Regions from separate parts of the Homo sapiens genome. Here region 1 is linked to region 2. The links come from fine-mapping of genetic effects on gene expression. Tissue or cell type: whole blood. Region 2 holds a variant in brackets; the other region holds the start of a gene. All regions are shown on one strand. Distances are between the middles of the regions.

Region 1 (8,000 bases), 60 kb after region 2:
GTGGTCTTCCTGCTAAGCCAGCCTTTACCAAGCTACCCTCACTGCTGACTTTTACTTGTTGTGCTGTGCAATTTTAAGCTGTTCCATACTGGCACTAGAGTTTCTCATCTCAAGCTCCATGAAGCCATAAAATTCTATGCTATCTTTCACGATTCCTTACAGCTCAGAAACCACAGCCAGCACTTGAATACTTGTTGATCAACTGAAGACATGGAACCACTTTTCCCAAACCTGGCCCCTAGGTCTCCTGTGACACAACAGCCACACCTCTTCCTTGTGCGGTATATAACTATTTTGAGAAAAAGCCTTATGCACTGTTATAAACCAGGTCTTCTGGAAGGACAGAGAAATGGAATCTTCTTCCACTGGGATCAAACCTAATGGACCTATGAAGCCACTGAACCACTGTGGTAGTTTCCAGAGGGTGGTAGTTTCCATTTTATTCAGAAATCTGTGGGGATAAAGACAGTATTAACCACTAGGTAATTTAAACTCATTACAAATTAAGACAGGGTCGGGTACAGTGGCTCATGCCAGTAATCCCAGCACTTTGGGAGGCCAAGACAGGAGGACTGCATGTGCCTGGAAGTTGAAGACTAGCCTGGGCAACACAGTGAGACTGGCTCTACCATATATATATAAATTAGCTAGGTGTGGTGGCACATGCCTTAGTCCTAACTACTCGGGAAGCTGAGCTGGGAGGATTGCTTAAGCCCAAGAGTTCAAGGCTGCAGTGAGCTATGATTGTGCCACTGCACTCCAGCCTGGGCAACAGCCAGACACTGTCTCTAAAAAAAATTAGGTGGCTCGGCCAGGCACGGTGGCTCGGCCAGGTACAGTGGCTCATGCCTGTAATCTCAGCACTTTAGGAGGCCAAGGTGGGCGGATCACCTGAGGTTGGGAGTTGGAGACCAGCCCGACCAACATGGAGAAACCCTGTCTCTACTAAAAATACAAAATTAGCCGGGCGTGGTGGCGCATGCCTGTAATCCCAGCTACTCGGGAGGCTGAGACAGGAGAATCGCCTGAACTCGGGAGGTGGAGGTTGCGGTGAGCCGAGATCGCGCCATTGCACTCCAGCCTGGGCAACAATAGCGAAACTCCATCTCAAAAAAAAAAAAAAAAAATTTAGGTGGCTCACACCTGTAATCCTAGCACTTTGGGAGGCCAAGGCAGGAGGATCATTTGAGCCTAAGAGTTTGTGCTATGATTGTGCCACTGCATTCCAGCCTGGGTGACAGAATGAGACCCTGTCTCAAAAAATAACTAAATAAATAAAAATTTAAATTTAAAAATCAGATAAACAAAATAAGACAAATAGGAATTGATCATGGAATAGGAATGCAAAATGCACATGAATTTCTTTCTGTGCCCTTGCAGGTAGGCAGCTATAGACATACAGTACTTTCTACTGGCTGTGTAATCTTCAGTAAATTAATGAACCACCCTGGGCCTCACTTTCAGGATCAGTGAGAGGGAGATGACAAGTATAACAGTTCTCTCTACCTGACAGGGTTGTTAGGAAGATTGAGAACATTAACGTGTATAACTGTTTAACACCGTCTGGCACAGAAGTTCTCAAAACATGTTAGCTGCCCTTGCTATGTTCCCAACCCCCACCTACCCCATCCCCCATTTGTTAACCCATTTCTGTATTTAGAAGCACTTAGCAAAGAGTCTGTGGTTAGAACTGGGGCTTCAATTAAGGGTCTTATCACACTGCCCACATGACCAAAATGGAAATCAAGGACAAACCAAGGGGAGAAATATTACAAAAGCAAAATGGGAAAATGGCAAACAGATCCTTTTCAATTAGCTGCTGCATTTATCTCTTCCCCCAAAAGAGAATCTTCTGCTGCTTCTGCTTCTTCATCTGCACAACGGGGATGTAGCCATCATACATGCCTGCAAGGCTGTAGTGAGATCCTGGACATGAAAGCATTCTGAAAACTGAAAAGTACAATGCACCTGTGTTTCTGCCTAAGCTCTCTAAGGTGAGTGGCCTTAGATAAGTCAACATCTCCTGGCCTCGGCTTCTTTAATTACCGTATTAAAATAGAGGTAATAAGAGTATCTCACAGGATTGTTGTGAGGAAGAAGTGAAATAATACAAAGCATTTTGGGGCCTAAACATAAGAGTGCAACTATCCAGTTAATAAGATTACTAGCCTAGTCAACTGGACTCTTTCTTGAAAGGAGGGGTATAAAAAAACCAATACTGGCCAAGGAACTGCAAGAACTAGGCTCTAACCAGCTGGGTGACCTTGAGCAAGCCGCTGACCCTCTCCAAATCGTTGTTCCCGTGGTCGCAAAATTAGTATTTTAAGAGTGGATCCCTGGGCTCCTACCAGCTCTTCCACTCCGCTGTTAAGGCGCTGGAACAAAGGCCACCCGCTCCCCAGCCCGTACCCGAGGGGCCACAACTCAAAATTTCTTCTGCTCAATTCCCCTTGCAGCGTGACAGCAGGAGCGCCCGGGTCTCCATCCCGGAGAGATGTGTCCACACTCCGCCGCCACTGCTCTCTTCATCAGCAACTTGCTTCTGCAGTCGCTGCCCAAAGTTTCGCGGAGCACCCGGCGACCTGGCCGTCGGTCAATCCTGAGAAGCCCAGGGATTCGGGGCGCGGAGACTGGGGGCTGGGCCCCGGGAATCCCAAAGACGTCCCCGCGGCCAGGAAGGGAGTGACAGGTGCGACGCGCGGTCGCGGGCGGCGGGAGAGCGGACCACGGAAACCGCGTGTGGGCGCGCGAGGGAGGCGGCGGCCACGCGCTCTCCTTAGGCCGCTCCCTGAGACGCCCCCGCGACGTCCCTAGCCCCGCGCTCTGGAACCCGCGACCCTCGCGCCGCTTTCGGCCCCGCGGCGCCCCAGATCCCACGGCCTCCCGGAGCGGCGCAGCTGGGTCGGGCTCACGCTCGCAGCGCCGGAAGGGTTGAGGACCGCCGGGGGCACCGTGCGCACGGGGTTCTTCCCGCGCGAACCGGGGCTGTCGGGGGGTGGGCGCACGCGCACCCGGGCGCGCCGCCGTAACCCCTTCCTCCCCGCGCGGCCCCCGCACTCCCACCCACCCACCACTCACCGTCGATGTCTCCCAGGGTCAGCTCGTCGCCCAGCTCCGTGAGGGTCTCCATGGTCTCCAGACCACCCAGCTCGCCGCTGTCGTCCATCGCCCGGCTCAGCGCAGAAGCCCCCCCTGCCGTCCCGCTCAGGGAGACGCGGGGGCGGTGCCGTCGCCACCGCCCATGACACCCGACAACCCCCGCCCGGCACCGCCTCACCGACGGGTGCCACCCGCCGCCATGTTTGCGTTGCGCCCGGGCGCCGCACAGAAAGGGCGGGGCGGGATTCCCCCGCCCCAGCCCGCGCCCCCTGCGGCCCCGCCTCCAGGCCGCGCGCCCCCCTGTTTGTTGTCAATGGGACCAGGCTCATCTCAGCCAATGGGCGAGCGAAGCGGTGCGTGGGGTGATGGCGCGTCATCGATCAGCAGCTCAGATTTGCATAGTGAGGTCCCTCCCCCCGCGGCCTCGGAGCGAATGCCTGGAGTAGCCGTCCGGTCATCATCTTAACCTTCTCCGCCTTGTTTAAAGGAGCCGCTGCCTTCTCCGTTGGATCTGCGCCACACGCAAGTCCGTCCACTGGCCTGGGAGTGAAGGGTTAACAGGCCACCCTCCACCTGCGACCGCTGGCCGCCTCCAGGCCTGGCTGGGAGCACATTACGTCATCTTCCCAGCTGCCTACCCCCGCCCTGCCCGCCTGAGAAAGCCAGCGGAGTCAAACCTGGACCCCAGCGCTCGGGACGGGAGTCCGGGTCATCCAAGTCCCGCTTCTCCCAGCCTCCTTACAAAGGCGGGCACGGAGGCTTGACAAGGTTGCAGATTGTCCCAGGGCGGTCAGGATTTTACGTCTTCTGCTTTGCACCCGCCGTGACCTCGCGCTTACTCCAGTGGTCCTCAATCTCTGGCACCTCGGAACCACTGAGGACCTGAAAACCACGCCAGTGCCCAGGCCCACCGACGGCCTCCTGAGAGGGGGGCCCCGGGCACGAGTTTTTTGAAAAAGTTCCACCGGGATTCTGAAGTGCAGCCCACCCACTCCTTCAAGCACCTCACTGCCCCATCTTGCAGCTGGTCGTGTTGTAAACTTCTAGGAATTTATCCAAAGGAATAAAAATTACAAGTGCTTAAAGAAGTGCTGTAACTAGGAAGAAGTGAGAATAAGGAAATGAATATGTAAATTACATCCACACGATGGAATACCATGGGATCATTAAAAATTACGCACACAAATGTATATTTATTAGCAAGAAAAGGCGTTCACAATATATTGATAAAAGGGAAAAGTTGAAGTTTCCTGCCAGTTTGTGAGAGGCAGCTGTTGCTTAGTGATCAATAATTAAGAACACACAGGCTGTGTGGAGGCAGACACATGGATCCACTAATTCACTGTGACCTTGGGTTAATTGTTCTAAGCCTCAGTTTAGTCATCTCTAAAATGGGGATAAAATAGCATCCCTCATAGCTGTGGTTAAGTGAGATTATTTGCACATTCAATTGACAATATTTATTGAACATCTCTGTGGCAGGGAAACAAATGGTTCCTGCCCTCTGAGAGCTTCCAGTCTAGCAAAAAAAAAAATCAGAAATCCCACACCCGTATTAAACATAAAAATAAATTACAGATGATGGTACAAGTGATCAAGGAAAGGTAATGGATGTGATGAAACTAACAAGGGCCCTGACTTGTGCTGTCAAGAAGCCTCTGAAGAAGTGACATTTAAGATGAAACCTAAAATTATGAGAGAACTGCAGCTGTTACAGCCAAAGGGGAAATGATGACATGGACAAAGGCCTCGAGGCAGGAGGAGCTGCTGGCAGCCAGCTCTCGGCATAAGCTTTGGCATACAGTAAGTGCCTTGCATACTGCTGTATTGCAATTGAAAAAATAAGGATCTGGCCAGGCGCGGTGGCTCACACCGGTAATTCCAGCACTTTAGGAGGCCGAGGTGTGCAGATCATTTGAGGTCAGGAGTTGGAGACCAGCCTGACCAACATGGTGAAACCCCGTCTCTACTAAAAATACAAAAATTAGCCGGGTGTGGTGGCGCATGCCTGTAATCCCAGCTAACCGGTAGGAGAACTGCCGGAACCTGGGAGATAGAGGCTGCAGTGAGCTGAGATCATGTCGCTGCACTCCAGCCTGGGAGACAGAGCAAGACTCTGTCTCAAAAAAAAGAAAGAAAAAATACAAAGAGAGTCCGGGCAAGGTGGCTCACGCCTGTAATCCCAGCACTTTGGGAGGCTGAGGTGGGCGGATTGCCTGAGGTCGGGAGTTCGAGACCAGCTTGGCCAGCTTGGTGAAACCCCGTCTCTACTAAAAATACAAAAATTAGCCAGGCGTGATGGTGCATGCCTGTAATCCCAGCTACTCAGGAAGCTGAGGCAGGAGACTTGCTTGAACCCGGGAGGCAGAAGTTACGGTGAGCAGAGATCGCGCCATTGCACTCCAGCCTGGGCAACAGGAGACTGCGTCTCAAAAAAAAAAAAAAAAAAAAAAGAAAAGAAAAGAAAAAATAAGGATCTGTGTGCTCACCTGAAGGTTAAAAACGATGGAAGACCCAACAGCTGGCTGTCAGACATAGTTACAGGAGTAGTGAGATTTGGGGTGAATTTTACTTTTGGAGTGAATTTTACTTTCTTTTTGGCATTTCAGTATTGCTTAAATTACGTTTTATAATGAACGTGTATAACTAATGAGAAATAGATAGTGTCTTATTTTTTGGGAAAGCAAGACAACATTGTTCTCGTCATTGTTCACACACAGGGAGGCTGGTATAGAATACACCAGTCTCACCCTGAAAGACACAGAAAACTAAACCCTGCTCTGGACACAGCACTGAGCAGGAAGGTGCCACCTTCAACTGTGCTGCCCAGTGGCTCTTGCAAGGCCCCTCACACTGGTGTGTGACTGGTACTCTGGGGGGATTCAGCAACAACTCCCATACAACTCACTCTGGCCCAGGGCACCCCCCACAACCCAGAACCTCAGTGACCCCCTCCAGAGGTGGCACACAGCACCTGCTCCCATAGTTCCCCACTGAGCCTGCCCAGAGGGCGTGATGCCTCGCCAAGTGGACTGAAGGGGTACAACTGAAGGCTCAGTAGAAATGGTGGAAGAAGGGTGGCTGGACCCGAACCTCAGGAAGCACTGATATTTTCCCTCTGGCCCTGGATCCCATGTAACTGAACATCTCTTCCAGGTGGTACCTTGCTCTGGCTAGCAGGAGGACAAGGGCTGGCTCTGAGAGGTAGAACAGCTTTTGACAAGTCACTCCTCAGAACCTGAGCTCTTCATCTGAAAAGAGATGGACAGCCGGGCACGGTTGCTTACGCCTGTAATCCCAGCACTTTAGGAGGCCGAGGCAGGCAGATCACGAAGTCAAGAGATCGAGACCATCCTGGCCAATATGGTGAAACCCATCTCTACTGAAAATACAAAAATTAGCTGGTCATGGTGGCAAGCACCTGTAGTCCTAGCTACTCAGGAGGCTGAGGCAGAAGAATCACTTGAACCCGGGAGGCGGGGGTTGCAGTGAGCCGAGATCGCACCACTGCACTCCAGGCAGGCAACAAAGTGAGACTTGTCTCAAAAAAAAAGAAAAAAAAGAAAGAAAGAAAGAAAAGGGATGGATTAGACTGGGTAACCACTATGTTTCGATATCTACCATGGATTGGGCATGTGCTACGGGTCACAGAAGATAATTTTGTATATGGTTTTTCATTTACTTCCTCTGACACTTTCCCCTTTTTCCCACAGCACCTGTCCTTTTCTTCCTCTTCCCCTAATCTTTCAGGATTCAGTTCAGATATTACTTCCTCTAGGAAGCCTTCCAATTGGATTAACCAAAAGCATGTACTCCACTGTTTGACACAGAGATGGGGTTAGAGAGGGAAATAACCAGTTTGGTTTTGGAAACATAAGCGATGAGAATTATCAGGTAGTAACCGGGCGAGTATTCAGCTTTTAGGTCTTAGAGAGTATGGCTGCCCAAAAAGAAAATAGAAACAGCTCCATAAAAAACTTCATGCAAACGGGGGCAGGTGAGGAAAGAAGAATCCGGAAGAGAGAGTCAGCTCAGACTTGACAGCAGAGAACTACAACAACAAGCCTGAGAGAATCACCTCAAGGAGCTGTCAACAGCATCTCTCTGAGGACAGTGATGGGGAAGGGGAGGAAGATGTGGGACTGGAATAAGGAGAAGGGCTGTGGACCAGAGAGGTTTTCCCTCCCAGTGGACATCTGGCAATGTCTGGACACATTTTTGGTTGTCGTAACTGGGGGACTGCTACAGGCACCTGGCAGGGAGAGGCCGGGATGCTGCTAAAATAGCCTACAACACACAGGACAGCCCTCTTCACACTCACACACCCAACGATTACCTAGCCCCAAACGTTAATAGTGCCGCTGCTGGAAAACGCTGTCTTAAAGGATATCAGGGAGCTCACAGACTAGCAGCTGAGTAGACAGGAGCAATGTCCAAGATCACACTGAAAACACCACTGTTGCCACCACTGGGCACCCTGGCACTGGTCACTGGACTTGGCATTAGAGCCACCCCTTCACTGCTGCCCCTGGTACCTGTGACCACTACCGCCACCAGCACGACTCCCACAGTGGTATATGCAGTTGGTAGCGCTATAGTGACCTAACAATCCCAGCTGCAAGAGGCAGCTGGACAAACATGTGCCCTAGGGCCTTTACAGCTCAGGGGGTGGGCTCTGTCTGCAGTAAGACTCAGCAAGTGGACTTCCTGGAGCAAGTGACTATAACAATCAATAGTGGCAGTAAAGGGAGGGAGAGAGGGAGCGAGTGGAGTAGTTCTATTTGTTTCTTTGAAGGTGCCCATTTGAGGGCAGAAAGGACAGGATTAACCAGGTTGGAGAGAGGATGACGGTATTAGAGGAAAGAGCCCAGGAGGAAGGAGGTGCCAGAAGGGGCAGATGA
Region 2 (8,257 bases):
ACCAAGAAATACAAAAATGAGTCGGGCATGGTGGCGCGTGCCTGTAATTCCAGCTACTTGGGAGGCTGAGGCAGGAGAACCGCTTGAACCCAGGAGGCAGAGGTTGCAGTGAGCCAAGACTGTACCACTACATTCCAGCCTGGGTGACAGAGTGAGACACTGTCTCAAAAAACCCCCCAAAAAACAAACAAAAATAACAAAAAACAAAAGTGACTTTGGCACCTATCTGCCTCTCAGGTCTTACTCTGTGAAAGAAGGACTGTGCTCAGTAAGTATGTCAGAGAGAAAAATTGCCCGGCACATTCCATGAGGGGCTGGGTCCCCAAGATGTCCAGGCCAGATGTGTCTGCCTTCTGCTGAGCTCGTCACATTTCATTCCCATCCCCTTTCTTTTTTTTTTTTTGAGACAGAGTCTAGCTCTGTCACCCAGGCTGGAGTGCAGTGGCGCAATCTTGGCTCACTGCAAGCTCCGCCTCCCGGATTCATGCCATTCTCCTGCCTCAGCCTCCGGAATAGCTGGGACCACAGGCGCCCGCCACCACGCCTGGCTAATTTTTTGTATTTTTAGTAGACGGGGTTTCACCGTGTTAGCCAGGATGGTCTCGATCTCCTGACCTCGTGATCTGCCCACCTTGGCCTCCCACCCAAAGTGCTGGGATTACAGACGTGAGCCACTGCACCCAGCCCCCATCCCCTTTCAACAGGCCCCTGCTCCCTACCCCAAAAAGCAGAGCAAGCTAATGAAATCCCTGACTTGGTCCAAGTACTGACTCCGCTTGGTAAAGGGATACATAAAAATGGGTGCACCTGCCAGGCGTGGTGGCTCATGCCTGTAATCCCAGCACTTTGGGAGGCCGAGGCAGGCGGATTGCCCGAGATCAGGAGTTCAAGACCAGCCTGAATGACATGGTGAAACCTCATCTCTACTAAAAGTACAAAAATTAGCCAGGCATGGTGGTGGGCGCCTGTAATCCCAGCTACTTGGGAGGCTAAGGCAGAAGAATCACTTGAACCCGGGAGGCAGAGGTTGCAGTGAGCTGAGACTGGTCCATTGCACTCCAGCCTGGGCAACAAGAGCGAAACTCCATCTCAAAAAAAAAAAAAAAAAAAAAGGCCTGGGCATGGTGGCTCACGCCTGTAATCCCAGCACTTTGGGAGGCTGAGGCAGGCGGATCACGAGGTCGAGACCATCCTGGCTAACATGGTGAAACCTCGTCTCTACTAAAAATACAAAAAATTAGCCGGGCATGGTGGCAGGCGCCTGTAGTCCCAGCTACTCAGGAGGCTGACACAGAAGAATGGCGTGAACCCAGGAGGCAGAGCTTGCAGTGTGCCAAGATTGCGCCACTGCACTCCAACCTGAGTGACAGAGCGAGACTCCGTCTCCAAAAAAAAAAAAAAAACGCACTTGGTCTAGGAGGAAAGGCCAGGTCAGAGTTAACATAGGGCTCTCATTTTTGAGAAATTAAATACAAAGGAACCATTTGATTGCCCTGCCAACCCGATGCCAGGCTTGTTTCCCTCCAGGAGTGCAGGCCTTCAGGCTGTCCTGGAGTTGCCTGCGTGGACAGGTCCTAAGGCAGGGGGACTGGTCTGGGGACTTTACCAGCTCTCTTCTTCCTGGTCTCCAGCCTTCTTCTTGGCCTGAGGTTTCACCAAGGACTCTATAGCTCGCTCCAGCAGGTTCTTGCAGAAGGCCTGGTGGACCTGCGCAATGGGGTCAGCTGGAAAAGAGACAGGCAAGGGGGGTTAAATGGAGCTCATTTATGAGCCCACTTTGTCTTTACGGAGAGAAACTCCAAACACAGCCATGCCTTGTGAATGGGGATCAGATGCCCCTTCTCCACCAAAGCCCAGAACTACTGTGCTAAACAGTTGGAGGATGGGGGAGAGTGTTCACTCCCAGCCTGAAGAGCTCAAGACTAGTTCTGGATGAGCTCCGGTGGGGAGGGGGTGTGGGGGAGGGTGCTGTGTCTCCTGGCACAGTGCTCAGTACTCTAAGGTTGGGAGCTGTCAGGTGGAGTTGGATCAGAAAACAGAAAATGGAATGTCTCAGAGGATTTCTCTTCTCCATGTGGCTAAGGAGAACCACCAGGCAAGGAAAAAAAGGTGGTAGCTGCTGCCACGCTCATGACAACGAAGAACATGCTCCGGTTTTTCCAGAGCCTTGTCATGGAACGTGCCATCAGCAGTGACCTGTCTGAACTGGCTAGACACGGGGCCTTGCAATGCTTGGATAGCTGACTGTCACCAGCAAGTTTCTTTACTGGCAGGCCTCAAATCACCAGCCCCTTCTCTCTCCTCACATGTGGCAGATATGTGGGCCTCGATCTAATGACCAGGAGGAGGGACACTTATGAACACATTCCAAGTAACAAGGCCTGGAGCCAGAGACTGCCAGAGATGACAAAGCCACTGAGAAGTCCATGTTTAGCCAGCAGGGGTGGGGTAGAAAGATTTAGGATTGCTTTTGCTTTCATCCTTTATATTTTGGTGTTGCACACAATTCTCACGTTGAGCAATACAGTTATTATTTAAAAAAGAAAAGGACAGTGAACTCCCCCAATGTGTGACACACACCCCTATACCTGTAGAACCTTACTCTCCCCACAGACTCCAATTCTGAGAGGGGAGGAAAAGTACAGCAGAAAGCAGACAGCCACTGAGCACTCAAGGTCTAAGTCAATCCTGACCAGCCTCTACTGCTCCAAGGCCGGGCGAGTCAACTCCAATCACTATCAAATGCCAGGGACAGAAAGCCAGCACCTCCTTCCAATGCCTGAAGCCTCGTCCCTGTCACCACTCTGAGCAGTTGATGACTGCCTGCCACCTATTGTTCCCAAACTCTCCATTTATGTCTGTCTGCTCTCCCAATGGGAGAGACCTGGAGGCCAGGGAAAGCAAGCCTCACACATCCTTTGTGTCTCCAAAGTGCCCAAAACAAGGGCTAAGAGTACCCTTGGAGCTTAATCACAATTTATTGCTGTGTGATGTAAGGACCATGGGCTCTGAATGTTAGAGAGAGCAGAGCTGCACACCCAGCTTAGCCACTGACAATTTCTGATCAGGCTTGTGACCTTAAGCAAGTTACTCAACCTCCCTGAGCTTTGGTTCAAACAAACAAACAAACAAACAAACAAACGGACTCAACAAGATTAAGAGACAACCCGTGTCTCCGCGTGTCTGGTGCAGTGACTCTGTAGTACCGGCGGTTTGCATGGCTTTCTCCAATTCTGAATGGCTCCAAGGTATTCTCACCTGGGTTCCTCTGGGCACAGTATAGACTCTCCTTGGCAGCTGACTTCACAGACCAGCTCCGCTCCATGAAAAACTTCTGGCCCAGGGGGTGGCAGAGCCAGCGCAGGGAGTCAGGAACAGCACTGTGCTCGGGGCCACACAGGCTCTGGGCTCGGCTGAGGAAGTAGCTCTGTGGAAGGACAAGGACCAGGGG[T/C]AACACCAAGGTGGCAGAATGCTGGCTGCAGCCACTGTGGGGTGCAGAAAGCACCATGGTGGAGGTGGGCTTTGGGGGAGACTGGGAAAGATCAGCACAGGGATAGGACTCCCACAGGTACCTGAAAGTAAAGCCCACCATGGAAACTAGGGCAAGCCCACCAGTAGAGTGTGCTGGACTTGCTGACTAGGTCCACATCCCAGCAGGAGGGCAGGGAGCAGCCACAAGGCACGCGTGGGGCCCCTGCTGCATCCTGTCCTGCTGGGGCTGCCTGATCCTACTGGCATTCAACCTGCAGGGTAAACTAGGAAGGCGGTTTCCCAAGGAGGGGTCTCAGGGGCCCCCTGGCTGCTGTACTTTCCCCTCGGCCCCGAGAGTGCCAAGCCAGGCAGCCCCTTCTATCCTGGGACTTTTTATCATGTCATTTTTTTTTTTTTTTTTTTTTGAGACGGAGTTTCGCTCTGTCGCCCAGGCTGGAGTGCAGTGGCGCGATCTCGACTCACTGCAAGCTCTGCCTCCCGGGTTCACGCCATTCTCCTGCCTCAGCCTCCCGTGTAGCTGGGACTACAGGCGCGCGCCACCATGCCCGGCTAATTTTTGTATTTTTAGTAGAGACGGGGTTTCACCGTGTTAGCCAGGATGGTCTCGATCTCTTGACCTCGTGATCCGCCCGTCTCGGCCTCCCAAAGTGCTGGGATTACAGGCGTGAGCCACCGTGCCTGGCCCATCATGTCATTTTAATTACATATCTTTTAGACTATTTTAGGCAAAATTATTCTGCTTTGACTAATTTTTCTTTTACTTTTACTTTGCGTGTAAAGTTTAGAACAGTGCTCGGCACATGGCCAGCCGTCAGGGTCACATCAGATGGCACTGGAGTGAAGGGGCAGCTGGGAGGACAGCCCAGGCCCTGTACAGGCAAGTATCTGTGTGCAGGTGGTTGAGAGACTCCCCCCACAAAGCTGGCCCTGCAAGGGCGGCCCCCTACAGAAACCCCATGGCACCCCTGCATGAGCCCCTGATGTGAACACCAGCCTGCGAGAAAGAACAGAGGGGGAACCTGGAAAGCCTCTTTGTGGGACAATTCAAAGAGCCAGGGCCCCGGTCACTGGGCCCCTCCTCCACTTGCCGGGATAACATCATTCCAGGACCCCACTGACAAGAACTGCAGGGACAATACCATCTACCACGTTTTCAGTTCTGTCACTTTTTGAGTGAGGGTATTTTCACACTAACACCCATGACTTCCAACCCATAACCACTCCCCGAAACAGGCCAGGGTGAGTGAGGAACTGAGGACAGAAGACAGGAGGGAGGGAGAAGCATAAGATAGAAAGCCCAGGGAGCCCAGGGGCGGGGCTGCCAGGCCGAGGCCCGCAGACATCGCTTCCACACCCCAGCCCTCGCCCCCACAGGAGCAGCGCTGTTTCATGGTCTGGTTCAGTCTGATGGTTCTGACCTTTACTGGGCTCTAAGTAGCCATCAGCGAATGTAACGGCTTCAGAAGACTTGAATGCCAGGGTCAGAAATAGCACTGTCAGAGTGCCACTCGAGGACACAGACAGAGAAGACTATCTCTCTCCAGGGGGAACCTGGAGACACTGCCTGAGTCTGAGAGAAAACAACCTGTTCTATAGACACATACTCATAATCTCAAAGCAGCTTATGAGATGAGGTGGGGTGTTTCACTTACATTTCTAATCACTGGGACCAGGGGCACCAATAGTCCGTCCTTCCTCTTTGGTAACCAGTGTTGATACTGGATACTGGAGAACAAATGTAGAGGACCCTCGCGACCCTCTGCCAACCTTCCACAAAGCACTCACTGAATCTGAGCTGATAACTGCAATGGTGGGAGAATAGCAGTTGAGGAGCTGAGCAGGGAGGGAGATTGGGGGGTGGTGGCGTGATTCCTGGGCTTCGGAGGTCCCAGAACATTTGAACGGTTGACTCCAACTCTCTTTCCAAGAACAGCCAATTCCACATGTCCAATCAGCAAGGGAGCCTGGTGGCTGCTCCAGGAGAAACTGAGGACCAACTGGTCCCTCACGAGGGCCCAAATGTTACAAGTAGAAGCAAAGCCTAGTCCAGGTCATACGGCAAGAGGAACCAGAAAGGCAAATGTGGAAATCACTAAGTAAAAATGTATTTTAAGCTTAATTCTTTTCTTTTCTTTTTTTTTTTAAAGACAGAGTCTTGCTCTGTCACCCAGGCTGGAGTGCAGTGGTGTGATCTTGGCTCACTGCAACCTCCGCCTCCTGGGTTCTAGCAATTCTCCTGCCTCAGCCTCCCAAGTAGCTGGGATTATAGGCACCCGCCACCGCACCCAGCTAATTTTTATATTTTTAGTAGAGACAGGGTTTCACCATCTTGGCCACGCTGGTGGCTTGGCTTGTAATCCCAAGCCAAAAAAAAAAAAATTTTTTTTTAAGTTTTCCTAAATTTTATAGACACCAGAATCTTCCCCAACTGGGGCCTAGGAGCCTCCCCCTGTAACTCATCTGCTAATTGCCTGATGTGAAAGAGGCTGTGGCAAGAACCCCACAACTGTTTAGATCCTGAGAGCCACTCAGTATCCCTGGGCCAGTCCCAACCCCAGGTTGTGTCCCCTAACATCGGTCTAACCCCATGGCTCTCAAATCGTGTGCCAAGGCAGTCTGAGGTGCCACAGCAAGTGATCAAGGGAGCCACTGGCTATTTTAAACTTTCGAGGAAAACAGTGATGCTCAACATCAGCTGGGCACTGTAAGTGACTAGATGGGGAGAGCATGCAGCCTCAGCATTGAGACCACACTAGCTTCCTTTGGAGATGTGATATCTGTCATAGTACTGTGTGAAAATCAATGTGGAAAAGAGAGAGAGTGATGGTTGCTAGTCTGATTCCAAAGCTTGAGGTGTGCAGTGCTTGACAGGTTCATGTATTGGTAAGAAACAGTGACACCATGCTTGTGAAGAGCCATTCCACTCCAGCCTGGGCAACAGAGTGAGGCTGTATCTCAAAAAATAAATAAATAAATAAAAGAATATTTTGGATTCTTAATAACCATGATTTCTAAGAAATTATTAAGAATCCAAAATATTCTCTCTCTTTCTTTCTTTTGAGACAGAGTCTTGCTCTGTCACCCAGAGTGCAGTGGCACAATCTCGGCTCACGGCAACCTCTGACTCCTGGGTTCAAGTGATTCTGTCTCAGCCTTCCGAGTAGCTGGGATTACAGGTGCGTGCTACGATCCCTGGCTAATTTTTGTATTTTTAGTAGACACGGAGTTTCATCATGTTGGCCAGGCTGGTCTCAAACTCCTGACCTTAGGTGATCCACCCGCCTCAGCCTCCTTAAGTGCTGGGATTACAGGTATGAGCCACCGTGCCCAACCTCTTTTTTTTTTTTTTTAATAGAGACATGGTCTCACTATGTTGTCCAGGCTGGAGTGGAGTGGCTCTATTCACAGGTGTGACCATAGCTAACTGCAGCCTCAAACTCGTGGTTTCAGGAGATTCTCCTACCTCAGTCTCCTGAGGAGCTGGGACCACAGGTGTGTGCTACCACTCCTAGCAAAAAATATTATTTCTTCTTTCAACTTGACATATGATTTTTTCAAATGACCACTAAGCTGTTAAGACAATTTAAATACCTATTAGGATGTTCAAACTTAACTACTTAACAGAGGCCAGGCGCGGTGGTGCATGCCTATAATCCCAGCACTTTGAGAGGCTGAGGTGGGCAGATCGCTTAAGCCCAGGAGTTCGAGACCAGCCTGAGCAACATAGCAAAACCCTGACTTTACAAAAAATACAAAAATAAGCTCGGTGTGGTGGTGTATACCTGCAGTCCCAGCTACTCGGGAGGGTGAGGTGGGATGATCACTTGAGCCCAGAGAGGTTGAGGCTAGAGTGTGCCGTGATTGCACCACTGCACTCCAGCCTGGGCAACAGAGCAAGACACTGTTTCAAAAAACGAAAACCAGAACCGTTAGGTATTTCTTTTGGCTAAGGGATGCCATGAAAAATTTACTGAGACATAGTGAGTAGAGAATGTTTGGGAATCTTGAGTCATGAGTTGAGCAAGTTTGGGAACCTCTAGTCTAAACCATTTTCACAGAGGCCAGCCCTCCACTTGCCCCCAACAACTGGCTCATTTGTAGCTAAATATATCTCACCAAATTCAAAGCTTCTTCCTTTATAAGAAAGTACTGTCTGAGTCTCTTTATCCTCTCTCAAGAGAAGTAAACAGAGAAGAGCAGTTACTTTAAAGATGACAGTTCTCCTTTTTCCATCTTACTGAATATGCAAATTTGGTAATACTATTAAGTTTCAAATATTTATATCCTTTGACACAGCATCACCATCTCTACAGATTTGGTCTGAGGAAACTCTTATGGAGGTGCATGAAGACAATGGACAAAAATGTTCCCTAAAGCACTGTTTATAACGGCAAATACTGGAAACAACCCAAATGTCCATCAGCAGCATCAAGTACCTCTGTAGAATGAAGAGGCTACAAAGAAACACCCAAGATTCATCGTTAGTCACTAAATCTGGAAGACCAACACTTCCAGACATCAAGACGTAAGAGAAAACTCAGCCGTTAGGGTTGGGTGGTGATGGTGCAGTGGAACAGACTAGATCTGGAGGCAGACCCACGGTACACGGATCCTTGATTTATGAAAAAAAGGTGCCACTTGGTGCAGCAGGGGAAGGATAGTTTTTAAAATAACAGGTTCTGCGTCAGGTAGATATCCTTATGGAGAAAAACAGATCTTGCACTCCTACCTCCAACTCTTATAAAAATTAATTCCAGGTGGATTA

The links. PIP is the estimated chance that this variant, and not a neighbour inherited with it, causes the effect.
Region 1: SREBF2 starts here. The variant in region 2 is fine-mapped to the expression of SREBF2 in whole blood (TOPMed, PIP above 0.99).

Annotation. Positions count from the first base shown.
Region 1 is chr22:41,828,437-41,836,436 of GRCh38, reverse strand. It overlaps SREBF2 (sterol regulatory element binding transcription factor 2), which reads right to left and starts at 3,332. Exons shown (of 19, transcript NM_004599.4): 1 at 3,079-3,332. The coding sequence starts at 3,166. CCDC134 (coiled-coil domain containing 134) reads right to left here. Exons shown (of 7, transcript NM_024821.5): 7 at 4,273-8,000. SREBF2-AS1 (SREBF2 antisense RNA 1) reads left to right here and starts at 1,772. Exons shown (of 2, transcript NR_157279.2): 1 at 1,772-1,994; 2 at 2,457-8,000. RefSeq lists enhancers at 415-914, 915-1,416, 3,207-3,863, 3,469-3,978, 4,805-5,344 and 1 more and silencers at 2,639-3,028, 3,089-3,428.
Region 2 is chr22:41,888,287-41,896,543 of GRCh38, reverse strand. SREBF2 (sterol regulatory element binding transcription factor 2) reads right to left here. Exons shown (of 19, transcript NM_004599.4): 12 at 3,259-3,427; 13 at 1,607-1,724. Among named protein-coding and RNA genes, the nearest start is that of MIR33A, 8.5 kb to the left of the region's middle. The variant T/C (reference allele first, on the strand shown) is at 3,452.